Linked DNA regions of Homo sapiens. The protein of the gene in region 1 interacts with the protein of each later gene in a pairwise test. Each region holds a gene or a part of one and is shown on either strand. Other genes may lie near its edges.

The links.
Region 2: the proteins of ATN1 (region 1) and LYST interact in a two-hybrid assay, tested with the Homo sapiens proteins (one study listed by BioGRID).

What each region holds. Positions count from the first base shown.
Region 1 is NC_000012.12:6,930,775-6,938,049, reverse strand, and holds part of ATN1 (atrophin-1), read right to left. Parts: intron 4,211-7,275; 5' UTR 4,049-4,210; coding exon 4,022-4,048; intron 3,875-4,021; coding exon 3,737-3,874; intron 3,586-3,736; coding exon 3,472-3,585; intron 2,504-3,471; coding exon 489-2,503; intron 206-488; coding exon 1-205. UniProt on the Homo sapiens protein: Transcriptional corepressor. Recruits NR2E1 to repress transcription. Promotes vascular smooth cell (VSMC) migration and orientation. Corepressor of MTG8 transcriptional repression.
Region 2 is NC_000001.11:235,807,663-235,814,937, reverse strand, and holds part of LYST (lysosomal-trafficking regulator), read left to right. Parts: intron 1-1,876; coding exon 1,877-1,967; intron 1,968-4,403; coding exon 4,404-6,483; exon of another isoform or gene 6,484-6,833; coding exon of another isoform or gene 6,834-6,859; intron 6,860-7,275. UniProt on the Homo sapiens protein: Adapter protein that regulates and/or fission of intracellular vesicles such as lysosomes. Might regulate trafficking of effectors involved in exocytosis.

The DNA.
Region 1 (7,275 bases):
GCGCTCCTTCTCGCGCTCGCGCTCTTTCTCGCGTTCCCGCTCGCGCTCGCGCTCCTTTTCTTCGCGCGCGCGCTGCTCGGCCTCGCGCCGCACCTTCTCCACCAGGTCGGCCCGCTTCTTGGCCAGCTTGGAGCCCTCCAGTGGCACGAAGTACAGGTCGCTGCGCGCGCACGAGTTGAAGCCGCGATCCAGGTGTTTGTTGAACCTGCCGGGCGTGGAAGCAGCGGGCGCTCAGGCGGTGCGAGCTGCCCGATGGAGCCCGCAGCGCCGCGGCCCCGGCGAGTGCTTGTAGCCCCCGCCTCAAAACCACCCCTGCAGGCTGTGAGCTGCTGCGGGCCTCACTGGCCACTAGGCCTGGACGGAGGAGAGGGGCGTGCTTTTCTAAAACACTACACCAGCGCAAGGCCCCTCCCTGCTACTCCCTCTCTCGTCGCCGCCTTGTCGTCGTCCCCTTTCCAGGCCCACCTCCGCCCCACCTGGCCGCTCACCTGGCAGACTGACTGGCATGGCTGGGTACATCTACCACCTTGGGAGGGGGCGAGGGGCTGCGGGCTGGGGGCACCGGGCTCTCGGGGGTCTCATACTCCTCAGCCGGCTCCTGTTTGATCTGCGTGGCGCTCAGGGGCGGCCCTGAGGCAGGGGCCGCAGGTGGTGGTGGCAGCGATGGCAGGCCTGAGGGCCCCGCAGGTGGCAGGGGCCCAGGTCCCACGGTGGGCGAGCCCGGCTTGAAGGTCCCTGGGCCTGCAGGTGGCGAGGTTCCTCGATAGCCCGGTGGGGTCCCCGTTCGGAAGGAGGGAGGCGACCCGGGTTTGTATCCGGGTGGGGTGGCTGTCTTGTAGGCCCCCGGGGACGGGGCTCTCTTTCCGTACGGTGGGGGCCCAGGTGGGGAGGCCGTTTTGTAGCCTGCTGGCGAGGAAGCCACGGTGGCAATGACCGTGGAAAGGGTAGCCGAAGAGGTGGTGACCGTAGGCACCGGTGGGAAAGGGTAGGGCGCCCCTTGAGGGCCCTGGGAAGGGGAGGGGTGTGAACATGGGTAGGACCCTTGAGAAGTGGAAGAGGAAGAGTTGGAAGAGGAAGAGACTGGAGGGCCATTGGGGCCTGCTTGGCTGTAGGACACCTGGCTGTGAGGTGGGGGCAGGTGTGCTGGCCCTGGTGGGTAGGGCCTCAGAGACCCCAGGGAGGGAGACATGGCGTAAGGGTGTGCGTGGTGGGAGCTACCGCCCTCCAGTGGGTGGGGAAATGCTCCAGGAGGAGGGGGCCCAGAGTTTCCGTGATGCTGCTGCTGCTGCTGCTGCTGCTGCTGCTGCTGCTGCTGCTGCTGTTGCTGTTGCTGGTGGTGATGGTGATGTGTTGAGACTGGTGGGTGGGCGGTGGACTGGGCCCCAGTAGAGGGAGGGAAGGGGCCTGGATGGGCATTGCTGTTGGCTAAGAGGCGGCCATAGGGAGGAGGTGGTGGGGGACCCTGGCTCCACACAGCCTGGGATGGGAGAGAAGGCTGAGTATACTTGGGGGGCTGATTGGAGACAGAGAGGCTTGTTGGGGGAGGGAAAGAGTGGGGGTAGCTGGGCAATGCCTGGGAAGCTGGGAAGGGGGAGGCAGAGGAAGAGGAGGAAGAACTGGAAGAGGAGGCTGCTGCAGAGCTACTACTAGAGGATGAATAAGGAAACCTCATGGGGGGCGCTGGAGCAGAAGAGGAAGCAGGAGGCAGAGAGTGGGGTGAAGGAGCCAGAGTTGGGCCCTTCTCTGGGCCAGGAGGAAGTCCACCCATACCCTGTCCCATGGCGTGGGGAGAGGGCAGATGACCAGGTAGTGGTTGGGCCCCCAGGCCAGGGGGAGAGGCTGATGCATTGTTGAGGGGTCTCAGGGCAGGTGGGGGAGGCAGGTTCGGTGTCACATGGGGGAAGTTGGCTGGTGGTGGAGCAGAAGGTAGGTTCCCACCACCCACTGGAGTGGTAGGCGGCTTTGTTGGGGGAGCACCACTAGCCCCAGAGCTTGATACTGAAATGGGAGTAGTGGGTGGGGGGTGCTGCTTACCCCCATTAGGGCCCCCCACTGATGAGGCAGCCCCTCCCCCCTTGGGACCCATTGGGGGTCCAGACAAAACTCCACCAGTGCCCCCAGGATAGAGCTGTGGGTGAGGGGGAGGGGCCCCAGGAGGAGCCTGGAACATTCGAGATGTGGGGGGCTCCATGGGAGCATGATATCCAGTGGGTGTCACAGAAGGATGGGGTTCAAAGCTAGCCTCTGGCTGTCGAGGGGTGCTGTCTGGCGGTTGAGGGGAAGGAGGAAAGAGTGGAGGTGGGTGGTAGGGGCGGGCTGGGCCCTGGGACAGGCCAGAAGATGAGTCAGAGTCATTCTCCACACTTCCAGGGCTGTAGATACTGGGGGACGTGCTTCGGTTGTCCTGGTCGATATCCCTAGGGTCGCTGCTGCCATCATCATTAAGGCTCCGCCCGTCCAAGCTATCCAGATCGGAGGGAGACTGTGGCCGAGGGAGTTCCTGCTGTAGAAAAGGGAAGACTCATTTTTTCTCTTTTCCTTTCCTGCTTCCCTGAGATTTGGGGCTCTCTTGCATAAAATCATTTCCCCTCACAGCACACTGTTGTACTGTGATGTGGTGAGTACTCTTGCTCAAGCCCACCTCTTACCATCTGGGGATTTCTCACTTTCCTCACATTCTTGGCTGCTCCCTAGCAGCCAGTCTTGTTTCCCGCCTGTAAAACCCTATTCCTTCCTCAAGGATCCATCTCAAGCACCTTGTCTCTACCCACAGCTGACTCCAACTCCCTGTCTTCCACCATCTCATAACCACCACTTTAACCATCCTCCATCCCCCAAGCCCTTGGTTTTTATACCACTTCTGGCCGGGCACAGAGGCTTACACCTGTAATCCCAGCACTTTGGGAAGCTGAAGCGGGCGGATCACTTGATGCCAGGAGTTCCAAACCAGCCTGGCCAACATGGTGAAACACTGTCTCTACCAAAAATACAAAAATTAGCCGGGCATGGTGGCTCATGCCTATAATCCCAGCCACTCGGGAGGCTGAGGCACAATTGTTTGAACCCAGGAGGCGGAGGTTGCAATGAGCTGAGATTGTGCCACTGTACTCCAGCCTGGGTGACAGAGCGAAACTGTCTCAAAAACAAACAAACAAAAAAAAACAATAAAAAAGAAAGACCACTTCTGCATTTTCCTTAAGATTTATTTGTTCCTCCGACTAAGACTTCTCACCCAGAGACTAGAATCCCCCAACTCTTCTGGTCCCCTTTGGCCCTGCCTGGTCATCTGGTGGTCTGTCAAAGCTCTAAGAATCTCTCTGGCATATTATAGACAGAACTGCTCTCATAAGCACTATGATCTGGCCTTTCTCTTATGTCCCAGGAGAGATCCAGCTAAGAATAGTGAGCATAAGCAAGTCTGAGAAAAGAATGGTCACAAGATGGGTCAGGATGGCGACAAGGGTTTCCCACCTCAGTTTTGGTCTTTTTTGGTGCATTGGTCTCCTCACTTTCACTCTCTGAGATCTCCTCACTCCGACCCTGCTTGTTGACCTTTGGGGTGGAGGCTTCCTCTACTCGGGCCTTCTGTTAGAGAGAAAGAGAAAATTCCTGTCTTTTCCCTACCTCCCGAGCTCCACCGTTACCCTCTGCCAAACAGGAAGTTCCCCCACAACACACACACACCCTCAGCCCCAGTGCCTTGGGCATCCTGTGGGAGGACCTGAGGACAGAATACCTTGGCTGTCTGCCTGGACTTCTCAGCTTTGCCATCACTGCTGGACGTGCTGACCCCTCCAGGGGAGGCCCGGCCCCTCGATCTCAGTTCTTCCCGGGGCCCAGGGGCCTCTTTCTTCCGTCCACTCCTCATTGACATCTACAGGAGGAGGAAGGAGGTAGGTAACACTGTTCTTTACATTGCACCTAACTTTATGGTGCACATTATTTGTTCTTCTTCTCTAGACCCTTCCTCCTAGCTTGCCTGCCCCGCCCCTCATCTTTCATGTCTCTCATTTTAACTCACCGAGTCTTTATTCTGTCGTGTCTTCATTCTTCAGGCTGTGGAGACCCCATTCTCCTCTGCCTGGGCAGCTGAATACAGAAACTTCTCTGCTCCACCCCAAGTTCCCCACAGCTGTGGTCTGGGAAGCAGGATCTCCAAGTTTCCAGTGTGGGCACCTGGAACTTTTGCAGGATCTGTTTTCAATGAAACCTGTTAGAAGGAAACCATCAGAGTCTCCAACTTGGAGAACAGAGTCACAAAGGAATACTATTCTGCTTGTCAGAGAACTGAGCAAGCGGCCCAACCCTAAGCCTTTGGGCCAAGAGGTACAGATACCACAAGACATTGCTGGCATGCCCCATGGGCTACCTTAGCTATCTAAAAGGGAGGCAGATTCTGCTCGAAGTATAATCTCTTTCATCTCTGTAGAGGGCAGAAAATTCGGATGTACCTACAAGCCCCAATCCAGGAGATCACACAGTTTACCCTTCATGATCCCTAAAGGATATTTGTGAACACACACATTCCACGGAGCCTTACAAAGGAACATAAAGAAATGGAGCGGGGCATGGTGGCTCATGTCTATAATTCCAGCACTTTGGGAGGCCTAGGTGGATGGACCACAAGGTCAGGAGTTCAAGACCAGCCTAGCCAACATGGTGAAACCCAGCCAGGCGTGGTGGCACGTGCCTGTAATCCCAGCTACTCAGGAGGCTGAGGCAAGCAAATCACTTGAACCTGGGAGGCAGAGGTTGCAGTGAGCCGAGATCATGCCACTGCACTCCAGCCTGGGTGACAGAGTAAGACTCTGTCTCAAAAAAAAAAAAAGAAAAAAGAAATGACATTGAAGTATGAATTTATTGAATACCTTCTTTATATCAAGCCCTTCACATACATGATTTCATTTAATATTTACAACCAACCCTGAATGGTAAGCATTATTACCCTCATTATATAGGTGAGGGAACTGAGGCTCAAAGATTGTGATTGTGACTAGCCCAACCTCACACAGTGAGGAACCAGTGACAGAGCCAGAATCAAACCCATGTCGGTGACTTCAAAGCCCATGCTCTTTCTTCTATACTTTGCTGTATTCTCCTCAGAAGTTGCTGGGGAGAATTCTCAGAAGGCCTAGATCAGTCACAGAGATATGAAAAGAATCTTTTCTCACATCAGAGTAGGTAGAAGAAGAATGTCCCATTCTATAATACAAAGGAACACAGCCCTACCAATCCCAAGACTAAACCTAGGTAGCCCCAAATTGTAGAACTTCATTTTTGAGAGCCCCATAAAGGACCCATTCTCTAGTACTTGAGCTCCCTAAGGCTAGAGGAAAAGTCAGGGTTTTCACATGAATGATTAAAGACTCAAAATATCCGTGAGCAAACAACACAGATGTACCAGTTTTTAAGCCTATCCTCCTACTTGGTGTAGACTGGGTTACACAGTTTCTCACAGCCAATCCATCCGTATCTGTCTATCAGCAGGTATCTATCTTTATCCAAATCCCTATAGCCAGCTGTATTCATTTGCACTTGTTTGTATTTCTTGCTAAGTGTCAAGTCCCTCCAAATTACTGATTGTAAGATCTTTTGAGAGCAAAAATGGTATTTTCTTACTGTTTTCTTCCTTTCCACTGATGTGTGTGCGCTCTTCTTGTGATTGACCTTTAAACCCACTAACATCAGTAGGTCTTTCTTCCTGAATTAAGTGCTGCTAGCTCCAGTGGGAACAGACTAAGCTTACCCATGTATTCTATTCTGAGTTGGAGGCCTGCTAGGTAAACGGCATGTCCATATTCTGTAGTGTATTTTTTCCCAAGAAACACAGTAATTCTCACTCACCTCCACGGAACCATACTGATGCAGGCAGTAAGGGGTGAGTCTAACCTTTCCAGGAAACTTCACAATTTACTTAGAATCACAAAATTGCTGGGACAGAGCCTATCTTCTGAACTTTCAACTGATGCTCTGCCCAGTAGACTTGTCTTTTTTTTTTTTTTTTTTTTTTTTTTTGAGACAGAGTTTCACTCTTGTTGCCCAGGCTGGAGTGCAGTGGCGTGATCTCACTCACTGCAACCTCTGCCTCCCAGGTTCAAGCGATTCTCCTGCCTCAGCCTCCTGAATAGCTGGGATTACAGGCATGCACCACCACACCCGGCTAATTTTTTGTATTTTTAGTAGAGACAGGGTTTCACCATGTTAGTCAGGGTGGTCTCGAACTACTGACCTCAGGTGATCTGCCTGCCTCGGCCTTCCCAAGTGCTGGGATTACAGGCGTGAGCCACTGTGCCCGGCCAACTAGTTTTCTTTTTTTTTCCTTTTTTTTTTTTTTGAGATGGATCTTTGCTCTTGTTCCCCAGGCTGGAGGTGCTATGGCATGATCTCAGCTCACTGCCACCTCCGCCTCCCAGGTTCAAGCGATTCTCCTGCCTCAGCCTCCCAAGTAGCTGGGATTACAAGCGCACACCACCACACCTGGCTAATTTTTGTATTTTTAGTAGAGACGGAGTTTCACCATGTTGACCAGGCTGGTCTCGAACTCCTGACCTCAGATGATCCACCTGCCTCAGCCTCCTAAAGTGTTGGGATTACAGGCGTGAGCCACCATGCCCGGCCTTTTTTTTTTTTTTTTTTTTTTCAACTACAGCTATTTTCCCACATTTTTTAGTTGTTATGTAGACTGGTTTTAAAATACTATCAACCAAAAAAAAAAAAAAATCCGAAGAACAACACCCACCATAGCAAAAGAGGAAAACAATCTTAAACAAAAAGCACAACAAAGATGACTATTTGTGATTGGTGTATTTTTGCCAGCCCTCCTAGAGAAGGGTGTCCATCTCCCTTCCCCATCACAGAACCTGTTCACCAAGTCAGTTAGGTTAGGGGATCCAAAAGGTCAGAGAAACACAGGAATGTACCTGAGGAACACAGCAATCATAGTATGCCCTTCTTTTTTAATCACCTGAAATCTGATAAAAACTAGCAATGAGAAGCTTTGAAGGAGAAAAGCAGTCATAAAAGAACAAGTAATCCTGGGGATAAGGAGTGGCAGACGAGGAAAGGAGTTAGGGGTGGATTGTGTGTCTTTCTAGACCTGGGTCATGTTTTAGCACCAGCCTACACTCCTAGCAGGCAATCACTGTAACTAATATTACAGAGCACCTACTCTGTATCTGGCCACATACTAAGCACATTCACCTTCATTACCTTGCTTTATTTTATTTATTTATTTATTTATTTATTTATTGAGACGGAGTCTCACTCTGTCACCCA
Region 2 (7,275 bases), on another chromosome or scaffold:
ACCAGTAGTTTTCAGGGGAAACCTTTACCAGCTAGATGTATGCGGAGGGCTCATGTGTGGCAGAGGGAGCTGACACTGGACAGCTCAACAGGAATCATTGCCGTGAAGGGTTTTCTATACCTAAAAAGGGGTTTAGATTTTACTAAACCCCTTTTTTGAAGAATTCTGAGCCTTTTCACAACCAGGACACCAGAAGGAGTAGTCTGAATGTCCTGTCTTTACTTTCTCACTTCCTTTGACTCCTCAGCCTATTGTAATTGGAGTTGCAGTCAAATCACTCCATTAAAGCCGTTAGTTAAGGGGCATTCCAGTTACTAAATGCTTTTCGGCCATCATGTCACACAGTGAAAGGGCAACAGCTTTGGCCCTGCTGACTCCTTTCTTTCCTGAACTGGTCTCTTCCTTGGTTTCTCTGGTTGTACTTCTCTTTCTTGGGGCTATTTTTCAATAGAAGCCTTTTCAGCCTTTTCTTTAGCATTGCCCATCTTTAAGTCTTTAAAGTCCGGAGTTTCATTCTTGATGGTCTTCTATTGTCATTCTATATTCTCACCCTGGGAAAATTCACATATCTTCTTGCCTTCCACCCCAATTACTCCTAAATCTTGTTATTTACTTCATATTTTTTTAAGTTCCAGATCTATATATTTACTGTCTACTAAAAAGCTGTCTTCATTAGGATAGTGCATAGACGTCTCAGACTCCATATGTCTGAAAAGTGAATCCATCATCTTTATCCCAACCTAATACCACTTGTAAATTTCCTGTCTTGGTGAATACATTATCAGCTACCTAGATGCTGAAACCAGTAACCTGTGGGTCCTTTTAGATCTTTTCTTTTCTCCCTTATGTGCCATAGATAATCAACTGCAAGTTATTTTAGTTCTACCTTACAGTTTCTCAAATATGTCTCCTTTTCCCTTCTGTTGTTGGAGTACTTCAGAAAGTCATCATCTCTCTCATCTGGATTATTGTTACCCTGCCTCTAACACTGCTTCCCCTTCCAACTAATTCTGTTCAGCAAATCTGATTGTGTCATCATGCGACCCCCTCTCCCACTGATTGGTGTAAGGCGAGAACTCAAACTTGATTTGTCGTTAAATCCTTTACTACCCATGTCCCAGGTGTCCCAGGTCTAGCTCTCTAGCTCCCATTCTCCTTCCATACTTCTGATAATGACTGCTCCTTTTTCTGAACTCCTAAACTGAATGCTTCTACCACCCCTGGATACTTACTCATACTACATGCCTTCTGCTGTTCTTTAACTGTTTATGTGTATGTATTTTATGGACCAAATGAGGGGACCTTCTCCAGGGCTTGGACCATATCCTCCAGAAAGGGTAAGACAGTATTTTTGTGGACATAGTATGCAGTCAATAAATATTTATTGGATTACATTCACTAATAAGTCTTTCTCTCCTTATATATTATTTATTAATAATGTCAATTTCTCTTTTAAAATCGTCTCTGAGTTTTTCATTTAACTGCATGAAGGCTTCACATTTTTCTAGTAACTTTGTAGCATTGCTTTGCTAATTAATAGGGCTTAACTTTTCATTTTCACCTAGCAAATCTGTTTCTTCATAGGTAAGGAATTCTTGCAATGTGCATGGTGGTAATAACAGCTATTTTTGGAAATATCAGCAGGAGTGTGCTAAATACTGTCAAATACTCTTAGATTCTTCTATCATTAGAAAGGCTTATAAACTTAAAAGTATCACAGCTTTAACTGGATTGAAGATAGGTTAATTTGATTCTTAGCTTTTCAAATGCAGACTTTCAAGAAAAAGGATTTTTTGGTTCAGTTTAAGACAAGACATTAGGAACTGATGTGTCTTATCGCCTTAGAACATGAAGGATTCTTTTGTTACTGACATAGGCATTGACATGTAGAGAAGAACTCCTGACTCTTCTTCTGTCTCTCCTTCCACTGGTATGGAAGATACCTGTCCAAGAAGAAAAGGCAACAGGTATGCTTTTTCCCTTTATCATATCACTTGTGTTATCAAAATTTCATAGAAAAGTTACTTCTGCCTGAATGTTTGATTCTGATTCAGATTCAGAACACTATATGTTATTGTGATTTATTCATACTAAATATGAAAAATTATTTAGGCAAACACATTTTTCCTTCAATAATACAAAAACCATGGTGCTTCTTGGGGGAAGTACTTGAATGTACTGATGATTAGAAAATGTATAAAGAAGCAGAAACACTTATCAGAAGGAGTGAGTCTAGGTGTGCAGCATAACATCAGAAAAATGGATAGTGAAAAGTTGGAAGTGAAAAGTCTGAATAAAGAAATTAAAGTTTCTTTGCTTATTTTAAAGACTGCTTTCTATTACCAGTATTCTATAAGTGACTTTTGCAGTATTTGTTTTAGCTTAGTTTTTCTAGTGTTGCCTTTAAAGTATAATTTTTTTTTTTTTTTTTTAGGCAGAGTCTCACTCTGTCACCCAGGTTGGAGGGCAGTGGAGTGATCTCGGCTCACTGCAACCTCAGCCTCCCGAGTTCAAGCAATTCTTGTGCCTCAGCCTCCTGAGTAGATGGGATTACAGTCGTGCACCACCATGCCAGACTAATTTTTGCATTTTAGTACATACAGATGGGATTTCACCATGTTGGCCAGGCTGGTCTCAAACTCCTGACCTCAAGTAATCTGCCCACCACAGCCTCCCAAAGTGCTGGGATTACAGGCATGAGCCACCGTGCCCAGCCTAAAGGATATATTTAATATTTTGTTTCAAGCTTGGGTAGAATTATTCTATGTAAGGTCGATAGATATTTTTAATTTATGATTTTGAAGAAATCATATGTCTATAAAGTACATGAAACTTTAAATGTTTCATTGGAGAGATTAATAGTTTTCCTCTTGACCCTTTCTTGTGACATGTTTGTGAGATGTTTGAAGATCTCTCAGGTTAAAAAAAAAATTATTGTATTTTAATTCCTGTATTTTTAGTGAATTTCATGGAGCTTTTTTTAAGGAGGTATCTAAGGTTTTGTAATACTGTTTTTCTGCTTATTTATTGATTCACTAACTCTCTGCTTTTATTTTTTTCTGAGTTTGCAGAATTCACAAATTGTTAATCACTTAAGAAATCTGATTAATGCTCTTTGGGGGAAGTTGTCTTCATTGTCTGCATCTTTTGCTTGGGTGGAATTTGTCAGACTCCTTTTAATTTCTCCTCTTCCCATCTGGTTTGCTTTCCCTGTCTTAGTAAAGCACAGATTTTTTTATTTACAGATTTTAATTTATTCACTCTAAATTACAGCTACTTTTTTATATAGCTCTTACTACATACTGCAAAGAGAAAGACTGATCTAATTATCTTTTTAGTTAAAGGGAGAATTCATTCATTTCCCCTGTGAAGTATTTACTGAGTGTTGACCATACGCCAGGCCCTATCTAGGCACCGGGGATGAAATAATAGTGTCTATACCTGGTGCCTAGTTCAGTGCTGAAACATTTGAGAAATAATTTGAATAAAGAATTATTTAAACCTCAGTTTTAGAGAACATTTGGCATATAGTGTATGATTTTGAAATAATTTTAGAAAAATCTTAAAGTAGTTAAATTATATCAGGTCTATGAATACTATTTTTGAGAATATAATACATCCTTACATTTTAATTAGTGGTACTATGGGAAGAGATTTGTAAATGGTGTGAACAACAGCACTAAATACCAGATAATCTACAGCATCTCTTATGTTGAAGTTAGAATATAATATATAGTTTTAAATCAGATTTACTTTCTTAACTCTGTTCTCTTTTGTTTGTTGTTGTTGTTTTGAGACAGAGTCTCACTCTGTCACCTGGGCTGGAGTGCAGTGGCACGATCTCATCTCACTGCAACCTCTGCCTCCCAGGTTCAAGAGATTCTCCTGCCTCAGGCTCCCAAGTAGCTGGGATTACAGGCGTGCACCACCACATCTGACTAATTTTTGTATTTTTACTAGAGACAGGGTTTCACCGTGTTGGCCAGGCTGGTCTCAAACTCTTGACCTCAAGTGATCCCACCCGCCTCAGTCTCCCAAAGTGCTGGGATTACAGGCATAAGCCACCTCACCCAGCCTCTCTTTTGTTGTTTTAAAAATCAGTTTGTATCCTTTGAAGTAATGTCAGCTAGTGTTTAGAGTAAGTATAGGTGTGCCTCTGTTTTGTTGTTTTAAAAATCAATTTGTATCCTTTGAACTAATGTCAGCTAGTGTTTAGAGTAAGGATAAGTGTGAGAGGAGGTAACCCAGAGATATGACATAAATGAAGGAAATCAGCCCTGCAGCAAAATACATTGAGGATAAACTCCTTTAGTGGGTTTAAGATAAATAAGAGGGCTGTCACCTTAAAATTGAGTTTTAAAACATATTGAGGTATTCTAAGCCTTCTTTTTTCATTCCATTAGATTTTAACCTACCGCTCTCAGCAGATATAATCCTGACCAAAGAAAAGAACTCAAGTTCACAAAGATCCACTCAGGAAAAATTACATTTAGAAGGAAGTGCCCTGTCTAGTCAGGTTTCTGCAAAAGTAAATGTTTTTCGAAAAAGCAGACGACAGCGTAAAATTACCCATCGCTATTCTGTAAGAGATGCAAGAAAGACACAGCTCTCCACCTCAGATTCAGAAGCCAATTCAGATGAAAAAGGCATAGCAATGAATAAGCATAGAAGGCCCCATCTGCTGCATCATTTTTTAACATCGTTTCCTAAACAAGACCACCCCAAAGCTAAACTTGACCGCTTAGCAACCAAAGAACAGACTCCTCCAGATGCTATGGCTTTGGAAAATTCCAGAGAGATTATTCCAAGACAGGGGTCAAACACTGACATTTTAAGTGAGCCAGCTGCCTTGTCTGTTATCAGTAACATGAACAATTCTCCATTTGACTTATGTCATGTTTTGTTATCTTTATTAGAAAAAGTTTGTAAGTTTGACGTTACCTTGAATCATAATTCTCCTTTAGCAGCCAGTGTAGTGCCCACACTAACTGAATTCCTAGCAGGCTTTGGGGACTGCTGCAGTCTGAGCGACAACTTGGAGAGTCGAGTAGTTTCTGCAGGTTGGACCGAAGAACCGGTGGCTTTGATTCAAAGGATGCTCTTTCGAACAGTGTTGCATCTTCTGTCAGTAGATGTTAGTACTGCAGAGATGATGCCAGAAAATCTTAGGAAAAATTTAACTGAATTGCTTAGAGCAGCTTTAAAAATTAGAATATGCCTAGAAAAGCAGCCTGACCCTTTTGCACCAAGACAAAAGAAAACACTGCAGGAGGTTCAGGAAGATTTTGTGTTTTCAAAGTATCGTCATAGAGCCCTTCTTTTACCTGAGCTTTTGGAAGGAGTTCTTCAGATTCTGATCTGTTGTCTTCAAAGTGCAGCTTCAAATCCCTTCTACTTCAGTCAAGCCATGGATTTGGTTCAAGAATTCATTCAGCATCATGGATTTAATTTATTTGAAACAGCAGTTCTTCAAATGGAATGGCTGGTTTTAAGAGATGGAGTTCCTCCCGAGGCCTCAGAGCATTTGAAAGCCCTAATAAATAGTGTGATGAAAATAATGAGCACTGTCAAAAAAGTGAAATCAGAGCAACTTCATCATTCGATGTGTACAAGAAAAAGGCACAGACGATGTGAATATTCTCATTTTATGCATCATCACCGAGATCTCTCAGGTCTTCTGGTTTCGGCTTTTAAAAACCAGGTTTCCAAAAACCCATTTGAAGAGACTGCAGATGGAGATGTTTATTATCCTGAGCGGTGCTGTTGCATTGCAGTGTGTGCCCATCAGTGCTTGCGCTTACTACAGCAGGCTTCCTTGAGCAGCACTTGTGTCCAGATCCTATCGGGTGTTCATAACATTGGAATATGCTGTTGTATGGATCCCAAATCTGTAATCATTCCTTTGCTCCATGCTTTTAAATTGCCAGCACTGAAAAATTTTCAGCAGCATATATTGAATATCCTTAACAAACTTATTTTGGATCAGTTAGGAGGAGCAGAGATATCACCAAAAATTAAAAAAGCAGCTTGTAATATTTGTACTGTTGACTCTGACCAACTAGCCCAATTAGAAGAGACACTGCAGGGAAACTTATGTGATGCTGAACTCTCCTCAAGTTTATCCAGTCCTTCTTACAGATTTCAAGGGATCCTGCCCAGCAGTGGATCTGAAGATTTGTTGTGGAAATGGGATGCTTTAAAGGCTTATCAGAACTTTGTTTTTGAAGAAGACAGATTACATAGTATACAGATTGCAAATCACATTTGCAATTTAATCCAGAAAGGCAATATAGTTGTTCAGTGGAAATTATATAATTACATATTTAATCCTGTGCTCCAAAGAGGAGTTGAATTAGCACATCATTGTCAACACCTAAGCGTTACTTCAGCTCAAAGTCATGTATGTAGCCATCATAACCAGTGCTTGCCTCAGGACGTGCTTCAGATTTATGTAAAAACTCTGCCTATCCTGCTTAAATCCAGGTTTGTATGTGTGTGGGTGGCGGCGGGGGCGGGGGTTGTTGAGCATGTCTAGATCTTTTTCATTGGATGCTTTCAAGTGAGTGATAAATTGTATGCATTTAAACTTCTAACACTGATATCTCCAGGGCTTTGGCAGCAGTGTGATCGTATTTACTCTTTATTCTTTCCTAGGATTTAATTTCAATTTGTCAACAAAAAATGTTCTCCTTCCATGTCAGATTTGTTTTAACCATTTGTTTATGTATGTATGCATTTTTTACTGAGCTGTTTATAGAGAAGAGGATACAGCCATTGATTTTAATTTCTCAACAAAAAGAAAAGTTTTAGATATACAACTGAGAAAAACGTAGATGAAACACAGATATCCAAGAGCAGGGCAAGTTTAATTACTTTATATTTCCTTGATAGAATATTATTGGCCATTGAAAATGTTTACAAAGATCATATTGGAATATGAGAAAATGATTATAATATCTTATGGGTAAAATATAAACAATTAAAATAGTGTTCACTTATTTACAACTATGTAAAATATGTATTACATGTAAAATAATACATAAAATGATTATTGAGGCAGAGGCACTAATGGGATTATTAATTTTAAAATATTATATTTACATTTATAACCTCTGCAATATATGTAGAAAAATTAGAAAATATAGATAAACAAAAATAAGAATATTAAAATTACTTTTAATCCTATCAGTGAGTTTTCCAGACTTTGTGATTGCCAAATCTGGTGCATTTAAAAATAATTTTATAAACGAATGGGTAGACTGGTCTTTCAAATTA